3 linked regions of the Homo sapiens genome follow. The protein of the gene in region 1 binds, or shares a complex with, the protein of each later gene. Each region holds a gene or a part of one and is shown in the gene's direction. Other genes may lie near its edges. The genes, in order: CCNT1, SART3 and CDK9.

What was found.
Region 2: CCNT1 (region 1) and SART3 share a complex: the UniProt entries of both Homo sapiens proteins name them as parts of the 7SK snRNP complex.
Region 3: the proteins of CCNT1 (region 1) and CDK9 are in contact, whole or in part, in a crystal structure (PDB 3BLH), measured with the Homo sapiens proteins. Residues at the interface, in NP_001231.2 of Homo sapiens: Arg5, Lys6, Arg11, Trp12, Arg26, Ile72, Gln73, Phe78, Phe89, Leu90, Lys93, Val94, Pro98, Lys99, Lys100, Leu101, Val134, Glu137, Ile139, Leu141, Gln142, Thr143, Gly145, Phe146, Glu147, Leu148, Thr149; in NP_001252.1 of Homo sapiens: Val8 (codon at 4,641), Glu9 (codon at 4,644), Cys10 (codon at 4,647), Pro11 (codon at 4,650), Phe12 (codon at 4,653), Cys13 (codon at 4,656), Lys56 (codon at 5,245), Glu57 (codon at 5,248), Gly58 (codon at 5,251), Phe59 (codon at 5,989), Ile61 (codon at 5,995), Leu64 (codon at 6,004), Ile67 (codon at 6,013), Lys68 (codon at 6,016), Gln71 (codon at 6,025), Leu72 (codon at 6,028), Leu81 (codon at 6,055), Ile82 (codon at 6,058), Glu83 (codon at 6,061), Ile84 (codon at 6,064), Arg86 (codon at 6,070), Ile99 (codon at 6,447).

The regions. Positions count from the first base shown.
Region 1 is NC_000012.12:48,706,706-48,713,857, reverse strand, and holds part of CCNT1 (cyclin-T1), read left to right. Parts: intron 1-1,281; exon of another isoform or gene 1,282-1,607; coding exon of another isoform or gene 1,608-1,610; intron 1,611-7,152. UniProt on the Homo sapiens protein: Regulatory subunit of the cyclin-dependent kinase pair (CDK9/cyclin-T1) complex, also called positive transcription elongation factor B (P-TEFb), which facilitates the transition from abortive to productive elongation by phosphorylating the CTD (C-terminal domain) of the large subunit of RNA polymerase II (RNA Pol II).
Region 2 is NC_000012.12:108,523,134-108,530,285, reverse strand, and holds part of SART3 (spliceosome associated factor 3, U4/U6 recycling protein), read left to right. Parts: coding exon 1-144; intron 145-3,732; coding exon 3,733-4,187; intron 4,188-4,676; coding exon 4,677-4,829; intron 4,830-5,779; coding exon 5,780-5,970; intron 5,971-6,651; coding exon 6,652-6,829; 3' UTR 6,830-7,152. UniProt on the Homo sapiens protein: U6 snRNP-binding protein that functions as a recycling factor of the splicing machinery. Promotes the initial reassembly of U4 and U6 snRNPs following their ejection from the spliceosome during its maturation.
Region 3 is NC_000009.12:127,781,530-127,789,033, forward strand, and holds the start of CDK9 (cyclin-dependent kinase 9), read left to right. Parts: upstream 1-4,504; 5' UTR 4,505-4,619; coding exon 4,620-4,711; intron 4,712-5,171; coding exon 5,172-5,253; intron 5,254-5,988; coding exon 5,989-6,079; intron 6,080-6,417; coding exon 6,418-6,584; intron 6,585-6,684; coding exon 6,685-6,856; intron 6,857-7,014; coding exon 7,015-7,163; intron 7,164-7,504. UniProt on the Homo sapiens protein: Protein kinase involved in the regulation of transcription.

The DNA.
Region 1 (7,152 bases):
TGGAGGAGTAACATTAAAGGGGAAATCATGTGGAATTTAGGTATAGCTTTCTTTTTCTTGCTGGGGTAGGGAGACAGGCAGGGTCTTGCCCTGTTGTCCATGGTGGAATGCAGTGATTTGATTATGGCTCATTGCAGCCTTAACCTTCTGGGCTCAAGCAGTCCTCCTGCCGTAGCCTCCCAAGTAACTGGGACCACAGGCTTGCCAACATATCTGGTAATTTTTAAAATTTTTTTTGTGAAGATGGGGTCTCCCTGTGTTGTCCAGCCTGGTCTCAAACTCCAGGGTTCAAGGGATCCTTCCGCCTCCGCCTTCTAAAATGTTGGGATTACAGTCATGAGCCGCCATTCCTGGCATTAATTTTGAAGTAGTTTATAAAATATGGTCACAGCAAAAGAAGTAAATGTAAGTTACTTAGATTTTCCAAAAGCCTTTGATAAAATTCCAGTCAGCAGTTGGAGGGGAAAGCACATTATGTAATAATAACTGGGAAAATGACTTTTAAGAACATGAAAAATAGGCTATGCATGGTGGCTCATTCTTATGTATAATCACAGCACCTTGGGAGGTTCAGGTGGGAGGACTGATTGAGCCCAGGAGTTGGAGACCAGCCTGGGCAACACGGTGAGACCCCGTTTCTACAAAAAAAAAAAAAAAGGTAAAAAAAATTTTACAAAGAACAGGAAGAATAAAATTATACTAATAAAGAAATTTTATTTTTTTGTACAGAATTATAAATAGTGATCTTTTCAGTGTAGCTATTTGAAATGGTCCTATTTAACATTATTATAAATGACTTGGAATTGAATGCATAGTGATATCCCAGTTCTAGGAAGGACTGTATTTACTTAATAAAACGCCAAGGTAATAGGGATAAACTTGATGAGTACTTCATATGGATTGATTTTTTTTTTTTTGAGATGGAGTTTCGCTCTTGTTGCCCAGGATGGAGTGCAATGGCACGATCTTGGCCCTTTGCAACCTCCGCCTCGCAGATTCAAGCAATCCTCTTTCCTCAGCCTCCCAAGTAGCTGGGATTACATGCATGTGCCACCACACCTGGCTAATTTTTGTATTTTTAGTAGAGACGAGGTTTCACCACGTTGGCCAGGCTGGTTTTGAACTCCTGACCTCAGGTGATCTGCCCGCCTCAGCCTCCCAAAGTGTTGGGATTACAGGTGTGAGCCACTGCACCGGCTGTATACTTCAAATGGATTTGTGAGTCAAGTATTTCCCTGCTTTTTTTTTTTTTTTTTTTTTTTATTTTTTTTTTTTTTTAAGGAAAAGATTATCCTGCTGGGCACGGTGGCTTAAGCCTATAATCCCACAACTTTAGGAGGCTGAGGCGGGCGGATCACCTGAGGTCGGGAGTTTGAGACCAACATGGAGAAACCCCATCTCTACTAATACAAAAATTAGCCAGGCGTGGAGTTTCATGCCTGTAATCCCAGCTACTCAGGAGGCTGAGGCAATCACTTGAACTGGGGAGGCCGAGGTTGTGGTGAGCCGAGATCGCTATTGCACTTCAGCCTAGGCAACAAGAGCGAAACTCCATCTCAAAAAGAAAAAGATTATGCTTTTGAGGATGCTTATTTCGTATCCTTAGAATGGTGGGTTTTCAGATTTATTATTACTTTTTTAATGCTGTAGAAAGAGAGTTTATGAAGCTAGACATAGCTCCTGAAATGTAAGAAACTGGCAGAAACAGTATTGGGAGTAACTGCACAGGAAACTTTTTGGATTTGTGAATTAAGATTTTTGTGGGCCAGGTGCCGTGGCTCAACGCCTGTAATCCCAGCACTTTGGGAGGCCAAGATGGGCGGATCACGAGGTCAGCAGATCAAGACCATCCTGGCTAACATGGTGAAACCCCGTCTCTACTAAAAATACAAAAAAAATTAGCCGGGCGTGGCGGTGGGCGCCTGTAGTCCCAGCTACTCGGGAGGCTGAGACAGGAGAATGGCATGAACCCAGGAGGTGGAGCTTGCAGTGAGCCGAGATCGTGCCACTGCACTCCAGCCTGGGCGACAGAATGAGACTCCGTCTCAAAACAAAAAGAAAAAGATTTTTGCTGATGATCCACCCAGGTTGGCTTTCTTCTGCCCTTAGCCCCTGTACCTCTAGTCATGCCCTGGAGCTTTGCTCTGGCTCTGATTGCAAGGAGTATATCCTTCTTATTAAAAGAGAGAGAAGCCTGTTAGCATTTAACGAGGCTATCTGATAGCACCAGAATAGAAGGTAGTGAGTAGTTAAAAAGTGAAATTTGAAGAGGAAATTCCTAGCCATTTTGCCAGTTCTGAAGGTTTTCTATAATTCTTCCCTTTTATTATGATAAAGACTTGAAATTTGGGGTGAAGTGAATCTCAAATCAAAAAAAGAAACTCTCAAATCAGTTTGTCCACTCTTCATGTATAGGTTAATATATATTTTCCCCTCCTTTTAACTTTTATTTATTTATATATTTATTTATTTATTTTTGAGATGGAGTCTCACTCTGTCACCCAGGCTGGAGTGCAATGGCGCCATCTGAGCTCACTGCAACCTCCACCTCCCAGGTTCAAGCGATTCTCCTGTCTCAACCTCCCAAGTAGCTGGGACTACAGGCACCCGCCACCACACCCAGCTAATTTTTGTATTTTTAGTATAGACAGGGTTTCACTATGTTGGCCAGGCTTGGCTTCAACTGTTGACCTTATGATCTGCCCGCCTCATCCTTCCAGAGTGCTGGGATTACAGGTGTGAGCCACCGCGTCCAGCCTTATCTTTTAAGTTATATCTTTTTTTATTTTTTTGAGACCTGGAATCTCTCTCTTTCCCCCAGGCTGGAGTGCAGTGGCTGCGCGATCTCAGCTCACTGCAACCTCCGCCTCCTGGGTTCCAGCAATTCTCCTGTCTCAGCCTCCCGAGTAGCTGGGATTACAGGCGCCTGCCACCACACCCAGCTGATTTTTGTATTTTTAGTAGAGACGGGGTTTCACCATCTTGGCCAGCCTGGTCTTGAATTCCTGACCTCACGATCCACCCGCCTTGGCCTACCAAGTGCTGGAATTATAGCCATGAGCCACTGTGCCAGGCCATATCTTTTTATTTCTTATCTGTTAAGCTTAACAAGGACAGAGATTCCCTTTTCTGTATATTCTCTAAAGCAGTTTCAGTAAACTTATTGAATGAATGGATGATCTGGTAGTTATCCAATATAGAGATATTCTTTCAAACATTTTTATATATATTTATTTTTTAGAGACGGGAGATCTCGCTCTGTTGCCCAGGCTGGTCTCAAACTCCTGGCCTCAAGCTGTCTTCCCACCTCAGTCTCCCAAAGTGCTGGGATTGCAGGCATGGGCCACTGCACCTGGCTAGTATAGGGATATTCTTTTGGATGTCATGACCTTTTTCAAAATCCACTGATTAATTTGAAGTTGTTGATCCTTTTTAGAGGATTGATTTTAGGCACATTTTGGAATCAACAGATTCCAGATTTAATATCACCTTTTAACATACTAATTCTAAGTTTAGCTGTGATGAATCCAAATTTAAATGTGAGAGGACTTAATACATTAAATGTGGCCTAATAATCAATGTGGCATTGATATGTTATATATCCTGTCAAGTCCTCAGGCATTTTTGTATGTGTGTGTGTGTTTTTCTTATTACAAAGGTATTAGAGGCTGGGCGTGTTGACTCAGGCCTGTAATCCTAGCACTTTGGGAGGCCGAGTTGGGTGGATCATTTGAGGTCAGGAGTTCGAAAACATCCTGGCCAACATGGTGAAACCCCGTCTCTATTAAAAACACAAAAATCAGCCGGGCATGGTGGCGTGCACCTGTAGTCCCAGCTACTCACTTGGGAGGCTGAGGCAGAATTGCTTGAACCCGGGAGGTGGAGGTTGCAGTGAGCTGAGATCGTGCCGTTGCACTCCAGCTTGGGTGACAGAGTGAGACTCCATCTCAAAAAAAAAAAAATGAAGAAACCCAAAGATATTATAATAAATTCCCATGGTAAAAATTAAGACAGTACAGAAATGTATGTGGAAAGTGAAAACTACTCTGTAATCCCACCCAGAGATAACCATTGATAAATGTTTGGTTTATAGTGACCCAGACATTTTTCTGTGCACATAAACTAGCATTGAGGTATTTTTATTTAAAAAATCATATCTTGCTATGCTACTGTTGCACAGCTTGCCTTTATCATGTAACAGTATGTATTGGACATCTTTCCATACTTCCCTTTATTATTTTTTGGATTTCTTATTATTTTAATTTGCCACATGGTATTTGTGTAGTTACTGTAGTTTATTTAACCAGCTTTTTATTGATAGCTATTTGGGTTGTTGTTCTAGTTTATTATATTGTACATTATGTTTCATGGGATAGTCTTGTACATATATAGTGCACTTATATAAGCATTTTAATACAAGTTCCTATAGGTGGAATTGCTGTGCCCAGAGTATACAATGTATAAAAATTTTTGTAGTGTCAGTTTGCCCTACTGAAAGATTATACATTGTTTCCAGCACTGTAGGTGAGGGTCCTTTTCTTTCCACCCTAACAAACAACAAATATTAATTACCTCAAGAAACATTTATCTAGTTCTTTGTTTTTGAAACGGAGTCCCCTCTGTTGCCCAGGAGTGCAGTGGTGCCATAATTTAGTTTAGTTTTATTTTGGTTTTATTAGTTTATGCCATACTTTTAGTTTCTAATAGGCTTAAAACCTTAGTCTTTGACTTGTCCTTTTCCCCTTTGTTCAGTTAGTTATAGTCCCCCCCAACCCCAAGATAGGTTTTTACTCTGTCACCTAGGCTAGGCTGGAGTGCAGTGGTACAATCATAGCTCACTGCAGCCTCCATGTCCTGGGCTCAAGTGATCCTTCCACCTTACCAAGACTACAGTGCCACCACGCCCAGTGAATTTTCCTTTTGATTTTTTGTAGAGATGAGGTCTTGCTATGTTGCTCAGGCTTGAGCTCAAGGGATCCTCCTGCCTTGGCCTCCCAAAGTGCTAGGATTATAGGCAAGAGTCTGCACCCAGCCTATAAAGTCTTGCTAATTTTATAATGTTACCATTTTTTCCCTCTCCTTATAAATATGTACTTTTTAAATTATCAAAAAATTGGAAGAGGACGGACAGGAAATAAAGAGATAATCCTGTTAACATTTTAGAGTATATCCCATTAGAATTTTTTCTTTGTATGCAAGTACATGTACATATATTTAGTGCAGCCCTATTAGTTTTACAAAGTGATGCCTGTGTTTCTTTTTTCCTTTATTTCTACTGCTAGTGTCTAAACTTTTTTTTTTTTCTTTTTTTGAGACAGAGTCTCGCTCTGTGGCCCAGGTTGGAGTGCAATGGCGTGATCTTGGCTCACTGCAACCCCCACCTCCTGGGTTCAAGCGATTCTCCTGCCTCAGCCTCCCAAGTAGCTGGGACCAAAGGCGTGTGCCACCACTCCTGGCTAATTTTTGTATTTTTAGTAGATATGGAGTTTTACCACGTTGTCCAGGCTGTTCTTGAACTCCTGACCTCAGGTGATCTGCCTGCCTTGGCCTCCCAAAGTGCTGGGATTACAGGCGTGAGCCACCACGCCCGGCCTACTCTAAACTTTTTAAAATTCTTTTTTCTATATTTTAAAATAATTTTTAAAAAACAGAGACAGGGTCTCATTGTGTTACGCAGGCTGATCTTGAACTTTGGGCTCAAGTGATTCTCCTGCTTTGGCCTCCCAAAGTGCTCTAAACTTTATGTCCTAATGCCTAAATTATTATTTAAGTTAACTTTTATTTTATTTTTTGAGACAGTATGGCTCTGTTGCCCAGGCTGGAGTACAGTGGCATGATCTTGGCTCACTTCAACCCCTGCCTTCTGGGTTCAGGCAATTCTCCCGAGTAGGTGGGACTACCCTACTACAAGACTCCTGAGTGGTGGTGTGTGCCACCACGCCCGGCTAATTTTTGTGTTTTTAGTAGAGACGGGGTTTCACCATGTTGGCCGGGCTGGTCTTGAATTCCTGACTTCAAGTGATCCGCTACCTCGGCCTCCCAAAGTGCTGGGATTACAGGCGTGAGCCACAACACCCAGCCTGAATTAACTTTTAATGTATCCCATCCTTTTCTCCTAGTTTTACCTACCATCAGATTACTCCTTCTAAATATTACTTTGTTTTAAAAATTTATTTTTATTAATTATCATGGGTACATAATAGTTATATACATTTATCATAAACATTTCTTAAACGATATTTTTCAAAATCTTTAGTGTCACTCTTGTTAAGAATCTTGGCTGGGTGAGGTGACTCACACCTGTAATCCTAGGACTTTGGGAGGCAGAGACAGAATTACTTGAGCCCAGGAGTTTGAGCAGCCTGGACAATGTAGGGAGACCCCATCTCTATTAAAAATAAAAATAAATTAACTGGGTGTGGTGGCGTGTGCCTGTGATCCCAGCTACTTCGAAGGCTGAGATGGGAATATCTCCTGAGCCCAGGAGGTTGAGTGGAACTGTGATTTTGACGCCACTGCACTGCAGCTGGGTGACAGAGTGAGATGCTGTCTCAAAAAAAAAAAAAAAAGAAAGAAAAAAAATCTAGTGTTCCACATCCGATTATCTAATGTATTTAACTACTCAGTTTAGTATTGAAAATGTGCTTTACGCCTAGATCACCATACCTTTGTTCATATCCATTTTTCTCTGATCCTGTTTTGTTTATCCTAAAGTCTGAGGAATATATATGTAGTATGCTTCATATTCATCTGAAACAAATGTGAAGGAAAAGAATCACTGTGTTTACTTAAAACAGTTTTTTCCGTATGTGTATGGAGATGGAGTCTCTCTCACTATGTTGCCCAGGCTGGTCTCGGACTCCTGGGCTCAAGTGATCCCCCGCCTCTGCTTCCCAAAGTGCTGAGATTATAGGCTTGAACCACTGTGTCTGGCCTAAAAAAATTTTGTTTTAAATTATTTTTGTCTCCTATGGTCTTGTCTGAAATCAATACTATGAGTTGAATTTGTGGAGAAAAACTTACTCTAGAAAAGTATAGCATAGGTGACATCAGGGTTACAAATAAGTATTAGAATATCAGTTCTAGTCAGTAAAATGAAATATATATTTAAATTCTGTAAAATTATTTATGTATTTCTTTGACTCCTGGTGA
Region 2 (7,152 bases), about 60 Mb from region 1:
TGCAGCAAGAAGAAGAAAAGGCTGAACAACGGAAAAGAGCTCGGGCTGAGAAGAAAGCGTTAAAAAAGAAGAAAAAGATCAGAGGCCCAGAGAAGCGCGGAGCAGATGAGGATGATGAGAAAGAGTGGGGCGATGATGAAGAAGGTAAGGAGCTCTTGAGAAATTGTGTTTTGAAACGTCTTAAAGTTAGAGAAGTTGCGAATACAGTATGAAGAACTTTCTTCCCTGAACCGTTACCAGCTTGATACCCATTACCCTTTGATCACTGTTAGGGTGTATGTCTTGCAAACAAGGGGCCCTCTTCTACATGACTAGAATGCAGCCATCAGAGCCGGGGTTAGCAATGAGCTATGGGTTCCCATTTATCCTGATAATGTCCTTTGTAGTGAAAGGATCCGGTTCAGGATGCACTATTGTGTTTAGTTGTCCTGTCTCCTGGATCTCCTTGAGTCTGGAGCACTCCTCAGCTTTTTTTTTTTACTCTGATGACCTGCAGTCTTGTAAGGGGGCAGGCCAGTTGCTGTGTTGTGCCCCTCAGCCTGGGTGTGTCTGATGCTCCCTAAGCATTGGATTCCACTCATGCATCTCGGGCAGGAATAGTGCACAAGTGCTCCTGTGGCCTGCCCATTGAGTCCCATCAGGTGGACTGTGATTCGCTTTGTTCCATCACTGGTGATGACCCTTTTGAGAATTATTTATGCTGATTCTCTACTTATCCCAGGTTTGGCTAGCAAGAGTTCCTTCACACAGGCTTCTATGTCCCTTTGACCTGTCCCCTTGTTCTTTGATCATTTCCTTACCTTCTAGCACACAATACCCAAGGGTCATCTTATACTTTCCATAACTCAGCCCTGGAATCCATCATTTCTCCAAGGTTCCTTTGAGTGATGAGTGGTATTTAGAAGGTGCTAGTTGTGCTCACTGCTGTTGGTTATTGTTCTGAGGCCTGAGTGGTCGAGGGTAGGGAGTGTGTGTGTGTGTGCGTGTGCGTGTGCATGTGTACACATATTTATGACCATATTTACTTGTGTAACTATTTGTATATACTGAAAGTCATGATTTCACACCAATACCTCCAGTTCCGGTCTAACACCACAGGGTTCCCCTTCACACTTGCAATGCCCTTCTCTCTCTTTTTAAAATTTATTTATTCATTTATTTTTGAGACAGAGTCTCGCTTTGTTGCCCAGGCTGGAGTGCAGTGGGGTGATCTTGGCTCACTTCAACCTCCGCTTCCCGGGTTCAAGTGATTCTTGTGCCTCAGCCTCTCAAGTAGCTGGGATTACAGGCATGCACCATCATACCTGGCTAATTTTTTGTATTTTTAGTAGAGATCAGGTTTCGCCATGTTGGCCAGGCTGGTCTTGAACTTGTGGCCTCAAGTGATCTGTCTGCCTCGGCCTCCCAAAGTGCTGGGATTACAGGTGTGAGCCACTGTGCCCAGCTGTGTCACGCCCTTCTCTGACCTTGAGAAACTTGGCTCCCTCTATTCTCAGCATCCTCAGTTACTCCACCCGGCCCCTGTAGGTATGTAATCAACTTCCTGTGCCTGCCTCCCCTTCTCATATGTGCCATCCCCACCCTGTTTGGTCTCCCACACCCGGGGCCAGGCACGGCCCTGCATGGACACCCTTGCTTCTTTCACTCAGGCTTCCAGATCTAGGCTGCTGGGTCCCTGTCACTGCCCCATGCCTGCCTGTCTTCTTCCTTCCATTCAGGCTCTAGCATCCCGCACCACTGCTGCAGCCCCAACCCTGCACAGACCTGCCAGGCTTGGCCCTACTTTTTTTTTTTTTTTTTTTTGAGAGGGAGTCTCGCTCTGTCGCCCAGGCTGGAGTGCAGTTGCGTGATCTCGGCTCACTGCAACCTCCGCCTCCTGGGTTCAAGTGATTCTCTTCCTTCAGCCTTCCAAGTAGCTGGGATTACACTTTGCCAGCCACCATGCCCAGCTAATTTTTGTATTTTAGTAGAGACGGGGTTTCACCATGTTAGCCAGGCTGGTCTTGAACTCCTGACCTCAAGTGATCCTCCCGCCTTGGCCTCCCAAAGTGCTGTTATTACAGGCATGAGACACTGCACCTGGCCTTGGCCCTGCTTTTAATGGTTCTGACTTAGTGGAATTTTCCAGCAGTGTTTCTTTCACCCTTGTAATTTCAGGGACGGGCAGCTCTGGGTCATATTTATTTCAGAGAGTCAGTCAAGGTAAAGAATTGTCTCTGGTGGCTGGGCGCGGTAGCTCATGCCTGTAATCCCAGCACTCTGGGAGGCTGAGGTGGGCGGATCACCTGAGGTCAGGGGTCAAGATCAACCTGGCCAACATGGTGAAAACCTGCCTCTACTAAAAATACAAAAATTAGTTGGCTGTGGTGGCGGGTGCCTGTTTTCCCAGCTACTCGGGAGGCTGAGACAGGAGAATTACTTGAGCCCGGGAGGCAGAGGTTGCAATGAGTAGAGATCATGCCGTTGCACTCCAGCCTGGGAGAGAGAGCAAGACACTGTCTCAAAAACAAAACAAAACAAAAAAAAGAATTGTCTCTGGACTTGAAAGGACTCTGTATACTTTCTTAATACAGATGTGTGAGCCAGAGAGAACTGGGAATGGAGTCATCCATCGTTGAGTTGACCTTGCTTGCACACCTTGTTTGGGCTTTCCTAAATGACTGAGGATGGCTCATTGCTCCACTGGCCTCCCAGTTTGGCAGAATAAGGCAAATGTGATGTGTGACCGCAGTGGTGTGTGATCAGGGCATGGCGTGTGATCAGGACTGTGGGAGATGGCATTGTTAATACTGGTGGAGGCCAAAGAAGGCACTAGTGGGTCAACTTCGTACCAGGAAGACTGTGGGGGAAGAGATGCGGCATCCAGGGGGAAGACCGAGTGACTGTGGCAGCGAGAAGGGAAGGTCTGAGCTACACAGGGAGGAGCCAATGTTAGTACAGCCTGAAGGCACAGCACAGCCTGGCATTTTCTGTGAGCAGCAGATAATTGGGTTTGAACTCAGATGCATTAGAGAGGGGTGGGGCAGTGGTCGAGGAGGCTGGAGTGGTAGGTGGGCCAGTCAGCTGGACCCAGCCCAGGGACACTCTTGAATACAGTAGCAGTGTGCAGGGCTTACGTTGCATTGGAAAGGCAGCGGGTGAACTGATGGGGAGGTCTGTTTGCCGGAGGCTGATGTCTGTTGAGCTTCAGTACTGGCCCTCTGGAGGCAGTGGTGAGGACAGACTGCAGTAGAAGATTGTGGTTAAGCTCTCTTAAGGACACAAGGCCATATTGAAAGTGTTTTAGAAACCACAGATCCTTTGTAGTGCTTTCCAAAATGTGCTCCCTGGGGCACGGGTATCAGTCACTAGGGTGCTTTTCCAGTGCAGATTCTCATGTCCTATCCCAACCCTGCTGATCTGGGCTTTGTAGGAGAGGGGCCCTGGAATTTGCCTTCTGAACTTTGAGATCCACTGACCTTTTGTATAATTAAGAGTGGACAATGGGGATTTATGTTATTACTTCCACTTGATTGAGCCCACTTACCCGAGTGTAATTGGGGCACAGAAAGTCGTGGGACAGGTCAGGCGGATCACAAAAGACTTCTCGGGGTGGTGCTTGCCCCTCCGAGTCTGGTGAGGGAGTAAGTGTCACATGCAGCTGTCACAGCACTTTCACTTCACACCTCTGTTCAAGCTCCCTGAAGAGAAGTAACAGTTAACCATGGCTACTTTTCTTTTGAAAACCTGTAGAGCAGCCTTCCAAACGCAGAAGGGTCGAGAACAGCATCCCTGCAGCTGGAGAAACACAAAATGTAGAAGTAGCAGCAGGGCCCGCTGGGAAATGTGCTGCCGTAGATGTGGAGCCCCCTTCGAAGCAGAAGGAGAAGGCAGCCTCCCTGAAGAGGGACATGCCCAAGGTGCTGCACGACAGCAGCAAGGACAGCATCACCGTCTTTGTCAGCAACCTGCCCTACAGCATGCAGGAGCCGGACACGAAGCTCAGGCCACTCTTCGAGGCCTGTGGGGAGGTGGTCCAGATCCGACCCATCTTCAGCAACCGTGGGGATTTCCGAGGTTACTGCTACGTGGAGTTTAAAGAAGAGAAATCAGCCCTTCAGGCACTGGAGATGGACCGGAAAAGTGTAGAAGGGAGGCCAATGTTTGTTTCCCCCTGTGTGGATAAGAGCAAAAACCCCGATTTTAAGGTAGGTTTATGGAAAAAAAGAATGCCTTTCATCTGTGGTTGCTTTAGACAGGCACTTTCTTCCTGCAGCAGTGATATTTAGGATAGACATGGAAGTTTTACGCTCTGTTTGGATCTAAACTTCCTTGTGAGCCAAGGTCCATCCTGAGCCGGTTGACTGAGGTCTGACTCATGGCATGGCTCCTTCTTGCTGGGTGCTTAGCAATGACAAGGGACTGTGCTGAATGCTTTATGTGTGTCAGCTCATTGACTCCTCATGAGACTCTGTGAATGGTTACTTTTATTCTTGCCGTTTTACAGAGGAAGACATGGAGGCCTGGAGAGGTTAAGTGACTCGCTCCGGTGGCCCCATTAACAAGTTTCAGAGCATGGCTTGGCTCTAGTCTGCCTGGCTGGGCTGCTCATGGGGACAAGGCTGGTGTCAGAGGAGTCAGGTGAGCTGGGTCATGCCTCGAATCATGGTTTTTCTCTGTCTTCCTTCTTCCTATAGGTGTTCAGGTACAGCACTTCCCTAGAGAAACACAAGCTGTTCATCTCAGGCCTGCCTTTCTCCTGTACTAAAGAGGAACTAGAAGAAATCTGTAAGGCTCATGGCACCGTGAAGGACCTCAGGCTGGTCACCAACCGGGCTGGCAAACCAAAGGTCAGAGTCAGAGCAGATTGTGCCTTGTCTTCAAGGCTTGGGCAAACTTCGTTTCTGTATCGGTTCAAAGATGATTTAACCTCTAGAATGGGTTCCTAGTTTGTCTGCTGAGAAACAAAAGTTAATTTCACAGAAAGATCTGCACTTAGCTCTACTTATATTTGGAGTCAGATTAACCTGTTTGTAGTTAATTGTACTAAAAAGAATAAGACACTTGGAAATAGAGGATCATGAATTCACCACACTATGGCCCCTGGCTGTGGGGCTTGGGGGAAGCCCTGTGACCAGCAGCATACGGGCTTTGGGGTGGGCGCCCTCCTGCAGCCTTCTCCCTCTGTCCCAGGCCTCTCTTTCTCTGGGGCCTCCAACCAGGCCCCTTGAGTCCCTCCATTGCAGTGCCTCTTCTCCTGTCTTTCCTTCTTGCCCCCTCAGTCTCCTGCTAAGTCCTTTTGTGCCCCATTTTGAGTAGTAAGTGGTTTCATTACTGTCTACCCACTGCCCACTCTCCCTCCCCTTTATCCAGGTTAATGGAGAGAAAAAGAGGATGAAATGAGGGAGCGGGTGAAGGCACAGAAACACGAGGGCTCACCTGGGCACCTGGGCTGCTGGCCCTGTGTCCCATCCACCTCTTGGTTTATTTGCTGGATTTATACTGGTCCATCTGTCTTTTTCCTTCTTTCTTTCTACTTCTGCAGCACGTACAAGGTGTGCTGAACTTGGAAGGGTTATCTGAAGTTACAGTGCATAGCAGCACTCGGGAAGGAGAGTAGGGTGGGGAAATAAGCCTGTAGACAGAGGATGCGGTGGTGGGGAAGGTAACCTGTTGGTGGGTCGTTTGCTGTGGCCTGGTCTGCTGGTCTCCGGGAGGAAGCCCAGTGCCTGCCCTGCAGGAGGAGGTTGCGTCCCTAGTCTGCGGGATCTGACTTGGTTCTGGATCTTGCCTCTTCCAGGGCCTGGCCTACGTGGAGTATGAAAATGAATCCCAGGCGTCGCAGGCTGTGATGAAGATGGACGGCATGACTATCAAAGAGAACATCATCAAAGTGGCAATCAGCAACCCTCCTCAGAGGAAAGTTCCAGAGAAGCCGGAGACCAGGAAGGCACCAGGTGGCCCCATGCTTTTGCCGCAGACATACGGAGCGTAAGTGCTTGCATGGTAGACTAGTGCAAACTTCGTCCTGGCTGGCACCAGTTCATGGATCACGGGGGGATTAACCCGGGATGAATTAGCTTCCTGTTAGGACAGAAAAGCCAAGATGTGCTGTTCCTTGTGGTAATCACTGTGGTTCCACTGGAGCAAGGCGTCCAGAGCAGGATGCAAGCCTAGGCAGTGACCTCTGCCTGGTACTGGCCAATTTACACTTGTCATTTATTTCAGACAGAAATAAGGCAGTGATTATTTTAAAGTCCCCTTTGCCAGTTGGATCTGTGTGTTTACAAAGAAATCTCATACCCATGTGTGTGCCAGTCTACGGCCCTAGCTATGATCCACATAAGCTGTGCTGTTCGCTGGTTTGGGATGAGGAGGAGATAGCAGAATTGCCAGGTGACTGGTGAGGTCTGAGAGGTGATAGTCACACTGATCCCCTCTGAGTGTGACTGGTGCTCAGGGTTGATCTTTGCCAAAACTGAACAAGGCCAAGTCTGTTGAAGCAGTTTTTACTTCATAAACAGAATTAAGGAGGCAGGGATTATCTTATCCTTTTTTTTTTTCACCTTTTAACTTCTGGTTATATTAAAACTGTCTTGGCTTATTTTCACAAATAAATGAGGGGCCACGAATTGTTGCTTCAAAAGGTCCATTCAGTGTTTGCTCTTTTAGGAGGGGGAAGGGAAGGACGCAGCTGTCTCTACTGCCTCGTGCCCTGCAGCGCCCAAGTGCTGCAGCTCCTCAGGCTGAGAACGGCCCTGCCGCGGCTCCTGCAGTTGCCGCCCCAGCAGCCACCGAGGCACCCAAGATGTCCAATGCCGATTTTGCCAAGCTGTTTCTGAGAAAGTGAACGGGACGCTGGGAGACAGGAAATGCCTTACTTCACTCTGGCCCGGCGGACCTCCCACCACCCAGCAGTGCACTGGGGATGGACAGGCCTGGTGTGCTGCGTGCTCGCAACCACAGATGGCTCCTCGGCTTTAGACAGAAAGGGGAAGGGGTTCTAAGTCAAGAGCCTTTCAGTGCTCCCTCATATTGAGGGCAGTGGCAGAAAAGTGACCACTCTGCAGGCTGGGCCCAGGATGTGGTGTCCTGAGATAGTTTTGTATCTTAAAGACTGAGGCACAGAAGCGAAACGAGAACACACTGTTTTTGAGACACAGTTGTCCAAAT
Region 3 (7,504 bases), on another chromosome or scaffold:
TCACCTCTCTGAGCCTCTTTTTTTTTTCCCCATCAGTAAAATAGGATAAATATAACATCCCTTACATGATCTCATGGCAGCAAAATAAAATATTTATACCAAGAGTATCATTTTGATTTAATCCCCTTGTGTCTTTATTTGCATGTTCCGAACAGACCTGAAGCCTTCTGAGAGAGGCCGGGGCCTTACCCATCCACACTAGCCCCCTTCCATATGAGGACTGGATCATGGGTGCTCAACAGATGCTTCTCCCTCAGTTGACCTGACATTGGGGACAGTGTGGGATGATGGCAAATGACCCTGGGCTTTGAGAGTAAAGAAACCTGGCTTTAAATCCCAGCTTCATAGCTTCCTGGCTGTGTAGCCTGGGGCAGGCCACACCAATCTGGGCCTCAATTTCCCCTTTCGTAACTTGGGTCTAATAATAACAACCTCCTAATAGGGCTGCTGGAGAGTTTCAGGGAGACAATGCAAGTCAACCCCAGGCCAGGCACTGAGTCAGTTCCTGGCTAGTGTGGGCAGAACTTCTGTGATTAATTGATTGATTGGAGACAGAGTTTCGCTCTTGTTGCCCAGGCTGGGTGCAGTCTCCAGATCTCAGCTCACCGCAACCTGCTCAGACTCTGCAATCACTCCCGGACTCAAGTGAGTCTTCTGCCTCAGGCCTCCTGAGTAGCTGGGATTACAGGCGCCACCACGTCTGGTTAATTTTCTGTATTTTTATTAGAGACGGGGTTTCATCATGTTGGCCAGGTTGGTCTCGAACTCCTGACCTCAGGTGATCCACCTGCCTCAGCCTCCCAAAGTGCAGGGATTACAGGCATGAGTCACCGCACCCGGCCAATTATTATTATTATTATTATTATTACTATTATTATTATTATTGAGATGGAGTCTCATTCTTGCCCAGACTGGAGTGCAGTGGCACAATCCTGGCTCACTGCAACCTCCACCTCCCAGGTTCCAGTGATTCTCCTGACTCAGCCTCCCAAGTAGCTGGGATTACAGATGCACGCCATCACACCCAGCTAATTTTCCTACTTTTAGTAGAGACGGGGTTTCGCCATGTTGGCCAGACTGGTCTCGAACTCCTGACCTCAGGTGATTCACCTGCCTCCTCCTCCAAAAGTGGGGATTACAGGTATGAGCCACTGCAAACAGGCAACTTTTGTGATTTTAGAGGGTTGTGGGTATCACAGGCTGTTCTCCGTCCTGTACCCCTGCTATCCAGTTGACCCACTGTCTCTTCAGATGCACCAAAAGCCAAGAGCAGCCCATTCCATGAACCCATCTTCTCCTTCCCTCCTATGCTTCCCGTCTGTCTCTGCTCAGAGGAAAACAGGGGGTCCAGGCTGGGGTCAGACAGCTGTCCAGCGCCTCCCTTTCCTGTGCTGCCCTCACCTTCTCTGTTAAATGGCAGCAGGACCAGCGGCTCTCTTGGGGCAGACATCTACCAAGGACTGGCCACATGCCCAGCCTTGCCAGCTTAGCCGACCCCTGGGAAGCAGGAAACGTTTCCAGTCAATGAGAAATCACTCATTTCTTCTTATTTCTGCCTGGGTTTTGCCAGCTTGGTGATCTGGGGCCCCGGACCTGGGCAGCCTGGGTAGCTTTCTGACAGGCTTCCGGCCTTTCCTGCCTCTCTTGCCTGCCTGCATCCCACAGTGGGGACTGAGGCCCTGAGGCCCCAAGGGGAAGTGGCGGGCGGATGCTGGGGTTCAGACGAGGGATGGCGGGGTGTAGGTGACAACTCCACCGGAACTTCTGCTAGGGCCTTTGCCCACAGGATGTGACTTAGGGAGGGCTCATGGGAAACGGCAGGCCCTGGCTTGAGATGTAGTCGGATAATGGAGGCCACACAAGCCCACCGCAGATCCCCGCCCACCGCACTACTGCTCAGACCCCAGCAATGCCGTGGCTCCACCCCTAGGCCAGATGGGCAGGGCCCCGAGATGGGGAAGTGCTGGGGTTTGTGCCAGACTGACCTGGTTCAAATACCAGTATGGTCACTGACCAGCTGTTTGACCCAGGCCAAGTGATGTCACCTCGGGATCCTGATGTGTACAATGGAGGTGACAACAGTACCCATGTGGTTGAGTGGCAACCGAGATAATTCCCATAAAGTGCCAAGTGTAGGGCTTGGACCATTTATTTTCCGTCAATAAGTTGTCATTACTAAAATTTTTATGGTCTCACTCCTTATCCTCCCCACCTCCAATTTAGGGAACAGCCTCCTGCTTCTAATAGTGTAAGCCATGAAGCCGACCCTACGTCACTAACTGCCTAAACCCCTCTCTTGCTTCACGTTACTCTCAGGAGAGGGCTCCTTCCTCCTCAGCCTGACCTTCCAGCCCCTCCCTGGTAGTGCCCTTCCCCAGAACAAGACCTCTTGTGACATCAAGGTCACCAAAGCCATTCCTGCCTCCTCCTAGGAGGCTTTGAGGCTAAGCAGTGTGGGGTGAGAGCTGGGAGCCACCCCGAGGGCTTTTTTTTGAGACGGAATCTCTCTCTGTCACCAGGCTGGAGTGCAGTGGCAAGACCTCGGCTCACTGCAACCTCCACCTCCTGGGTTCAAGCAATTCTCCTGCCTCAGCCTCCCAAGTAGCTGGGACTACAGGCGCCCAATACCACGCCTGGCTAATTTTTGTCTTTTTAGTAGAGACGGGGTTTCAACATATTGGCCAGGCTGGCTCCAACTCCTGACCTTGTGATCCGCCTGCCTTGGTCTCCCAAAGTGCTGGGATTACAGGCGTGAGCCACCGCGCCCACTCCAATGGCTTCTTGCAGGAAGAGAGGGTAACGAGAGTCTGGGGGAGTGTAGGATCAGGGGAGCACCGCCCTGAACGCAGAAAGGCTTGGGGAGACAGTAGAGAGATTTGCATGGCCACAGCTTGAGGGGTGGGGTGTGAACTGGAAAGAGCCTCCAATGTCACATTCAGGTTCTTCGGGGACAGAGAGGCCAGACTGGGGGGCTAGGTCTCAGGATCCACCCGCAGAGGGCTGGAGAGGAGGGGGCAGATTGAAGCGGGGCAGAGGAGGCAGAAAAGACGGCTTTGCTGGAGGCTGTCCTTGGGCAGAGCTGGAGGGGGAATCTGGGGGCCGCTGGAGCCAGGAAGATGCGAGGGAAGGGATGGGCGCGATGGGGGAGGGAGATGGGGGGGGTGAACGGTGAGCTCGCGCCTGCATAAGGACAGCAGGCCTCCCCACTGCTATCCTCCTGGCCCAACAGCGAATAGCGTGAGTCAAGAGAATCCCCTCACTCAGACACCCAGGTTCGGGTCCCAACTTTGTCGCCGTGTGACCTTGGGCAAATGACCTCACCTCTGAGCCTCAACGTCTTCTTCTGCAAAATGGGTTAGTGATCCTGACTATGGGGCTGTTGATTCAGGATTCGGCGGGAACGCCCAGCACTTCCTGAGTACACAAGAGTGCTGAGAAAATGGTAGCTGTTTTTTGCGATTACTGACTCGGGGCCCGACCAGCTCTGGCACGACTCAGCGGAGGTGGGAGTCCTGCGGGTCCCATCCCTGCCTCCCGGAGAGCCAGACCCCAGCGATAGAAGGCCCGGGCGTTGCTTGCTCGTCGCCGCTAGTGCCGCCGCGCCCCCTGGCGGCCGTCGGTTGCCATGTCAACGGAGGGTGGCGGGGACCGGGGGAGGCGGAGGCGGGGGCCGTTCTCTCCTCCCAGGGCCGGAGGACGCTCCCTCCGCGCCTCCCGCCTTCGCCTCTGTGGGGGCACTCCGAGCCGGGGAGGAAGGGGCTTTCCGCTGCAGCCGACATGTGGGGGTAAACTGAGGCACGCGGCAGGGCGCCCGCAGCCAGGTGCCGAGCGCGGGGCCCCACCTCCGAAGGCGGAGGAGGGGCCGCGGGCGGTGACGCGCCGAGGGCGGCCGGCGGACAGCGAGCGGGCGGGCGGTGGCGGCGGCGGCAGGTGCGGCCGCGGAGGGTGGGAGGGAGGAGGGCGGGGGCGGGCGGAGGAGGAGGGGAGGGCGAGGCCGGGCACCTCCCCCTTTATAACGCGCCCCCTCCTGGGCTCTCGGGCCGTCTCCTAGTCGGCTCTTCCCGTCTCGCCCCCTCGCCCGGCCGCCCCGGGCCCGGGTCCGGCCAGGGAGCTCCCAGGCCGCGGCTCGGGGGCTGACCCCCCGCCCGCCGCCCCGCGCAGCCCGGCGGAGGCGGCGCCGTCGGAGGAGGAGGAGCAGGGCACTGCGGCTGGCCCCGGATCGGGCGCCAGAGCGGCAGCAGCTTCGGCAGCAGCGGCGGCCCGGGCCCATGCAGCGGGACGCGCCACCCCGAGCCCCAGCTCCGGCGCCCCGGCTCCCCGCGCCCCCGATCGGGGCCGCCGCTAGTAGTGGCGGCGGCGGAGGCGGGGGCAGCGGCGGCGGCGGCGGAGGCGCCTCTGCAGCTCCGGCTCCCCCTGGCCTCTCGGGAACTACAAGTCCCAGGGGGCCTGGCGGTGGGCGGCGGGCGGAAGAGGCGGGGTCGGCGCCGCGAGGCCGGAAGTGGCCGTGGAGGCGGAAGTGGCGCGGCCGCGGAGGGGCCTGGAGTGCGGCGGCGGCGGGACCCGGAGCAGGAGCGGCGGCAGCAGCGACTGGGGGCGGCGGCGGCGCGTTGGAGGCGGCCATGGCAAAGCAGTACGACTCGGTGGAGTGCCCTTTTTGTGATGAAGTTTCCAAATACGAGAAGCTCGCCAAGATCGGCCAAGGCACCTTCGGGTAAGGCTGGGCCCCTCGGGGCCGGGAGCCCTGGGCCTGCACCCCTAGGGCCGACGTCGGGATGCCCGGGCCCCCCCCGAGTTGGTAGAGAAGTCGTCTGTCCCCGGGCTTGCCTGCTGGTCTCTAGGCCGCGCCGCACCCCGCCCCGGCCTGACGGAGCCGGCTGGTGGGGAGGAGCCTGAGGCCCGTGGTGGGGGCGGGGAGGGGCTGCAGAGAGGCGCCCGTGAGGGGAGCGGGATCTCTCCAAGGGACGCCCAAGTGAGGAGAAGGGACTGAGGGAAGGAAGCAGAGGCTCCGAACGAGACAGGCTGCCGGGTGGCGGGGTAGCCGCGTGCCCTGGGTACCTAGCCCAGCCCCGCCCGGGAATCTCTTTGCTGCTGCCCCTCCTCCTGTAGTGGGGGAGGGGCGGGCCCTGCGGAAATGGCCTGATGAGTTCTCGGGTCTCCCTTTCCGCCTGCAGGGAGGTGTTCAAGGCCAGGCACCGCAAGACCGGCCAGAAGGTGGCTCTGAAGAAGGTGCTGATGGAAAACGAGAAGGAGGGGGTGAGTACGGATCGGGCGTGCGGGCCGGCCGGCTAACTGCCCGGGACCCCGGGTCGGTTTTCCACCCTGCTGCTTCTGGGAGTCTCAGGTTGAGATTTAATTTTTTTGTAGTAGTTCAGAAATTTCCAGGGAATGTGGCTTCCACCCTAAAACTAAATGTTTCATTCTTAGGCAGTTATGGGTGAGGCCAGGAGGGGGAGTTGATGCATGCATCGTGTGCACTTTATTTCACGAAGTTAGGAAGCCTTTAAACACCTTTTTTTAGTGTTAAATTTCGCTTAATGTAAAAGAAAGATTATATATGCATGCTTTTTGAAAGGTGTCTGATACTCAATTATTTAATGTATTTAAAAGGAGCGGTCCCTTCTCCACCCCATCTTAGCTCTAGTACAACTTCCCATAAACCTTCTTTTGCGTAATGTGCATTAGCAAGGACATTTTTAAATCATCATGTTTGTTGCCAACGAAACAGCCATAGAGCTGAAATTTGAAGACTGAAACCGCCGAGCGTTTAGTGGCTAATAGCAAAGTATTGCTGTTTCAGTTTGTTGTCTCAAACCATCATCTTGAAGTGTGCATGCTACTAATATCCATTTTATAGACAAGGCTTCTGAGACAGCTGGTTTCAGAGCCCATGATCTTGCTCTGTCTCCCAACTTGGCTGTCAGTACAGACCCCAGGGCTGGGCTCTGTACTGCGCTCACTCTTGACCACTTTCCCCTCTTTCTCACCCAGTTCCCCATTACAGCCTTGCGGGAGATCAAGATCCTTCAGCTTCTAAAACACGAGAATGTGGTCAACTTGATTGAGATTTGTCGAACCAAAGGTAAGTTATTTGGTTCTTACGAGAAGATGACACTTGTAGCCTAAGGTTTTGTTTGTAAACTTGGAACTAGGCACACCTAAACTGCCTCTTCTTAACTCAGATGGACCCATGGTGACTGCTTTTTCTGGTCCTCTTTCATCGTAGCTGGTGCTTCCTCGGGGCCTGCCCTGGCCCAGAAGAGGCACTCAGAAAATATTTGACCGGTGAAGGAAGGAACAGACAGATGCTCTGGAGGGCATGGGTGCCCGTGGGTTGGAGCAGGAAGAAAGAAGCTGGTTGTGGGAAAGTGTGTTGGGTGTGGTTTTCTTGACTTTTTCTTCTTTCTATTCCTGCCTCAGCTTCCCCCTATAACCGCTGCAAGGGTAGTATATACCTGGTGTTCGACTTCTGCGAGCATGACCTTGCTGGGCTGTTGAGCAATGTTTTGGTCAAGTTCACGCTGTCTGAGATCAAGAGGGTGATGCAGATGCTGCTTAACGGCCTCTACTACATCCACAGAAACAAGGTGGGGGCCAGAGCTGGGAGGAGGACCCAGGCTTGGGCTGGTCTTGGCTCCCACTCCCGGGTGGATGTCACTAAAGGACCCACTCTTGCCCTTCCTGCAGATCCTGCATAGGGACATGAAGGCTGCTAATGTGCTTATCACTCGTGATGGGGTCCTGAAGCTGGCAGACTTTGGGCTGGCCCGGGCCTTCAGCCTGGCCAAGAACAGCCAGCCCAACCGCTACACCAACCGTGTGGTGACACTCTGGTACCGGCCCCCGGAGCTGTTGCTCGGTGAGGACTCCCGAGCGGGCCAAGGGGGGTGAGGGCCAGGCATCTACCTGGCCCCTTCCCCCCAACTGCCAGGGCTTCTTGAGCTGCCGGCCCTGGGGCATTGAGCCTCAGGAGGCCCTCGGGCTCAAGGGGCCCTCCTGGTGCGCTCTTCTTCCCAGGGGAGCGGGACTACGGCCCCCCCATTGACCTGTGGGGTGCTGGGTGCATCATGGCAGAGATGTGGACCCGCAGCCCCATCATGCAGGGCAACACGGAGCAGCACCAACTCGCCCTCATCAGTCAGCTCTGCGGCTCCATCACCCCTGAGGTACGGGGCCCCGGTCCCCACGGGGTGCAGAGATCGAGGTCCCCCGGCAGAGGAGGAGTGGGGAGTAGAATGGAAGGAGCGCTCCTCTCTGGAAGGGAGGCTGGTTTGGTGACAGGGCCTGTCTTGGGGTGGGGAGTGTGTGGGAGAAAAAAACACCTGACACAGGCTGTGCGCCAGTCTCGGTTCCATCAGCTGTTCTGTGGCCTTGGGCAGAACATCTGAGTCAGCGCTGGGTTTCTCTTCTGTGAACCAGAAATGTGACGTGTATCAGGGTTGGAGCCCATATTCCAGGTGATGTGGGTGGAAGGACCTGGCACGTGGTATGTGCCAATCCATAGCGG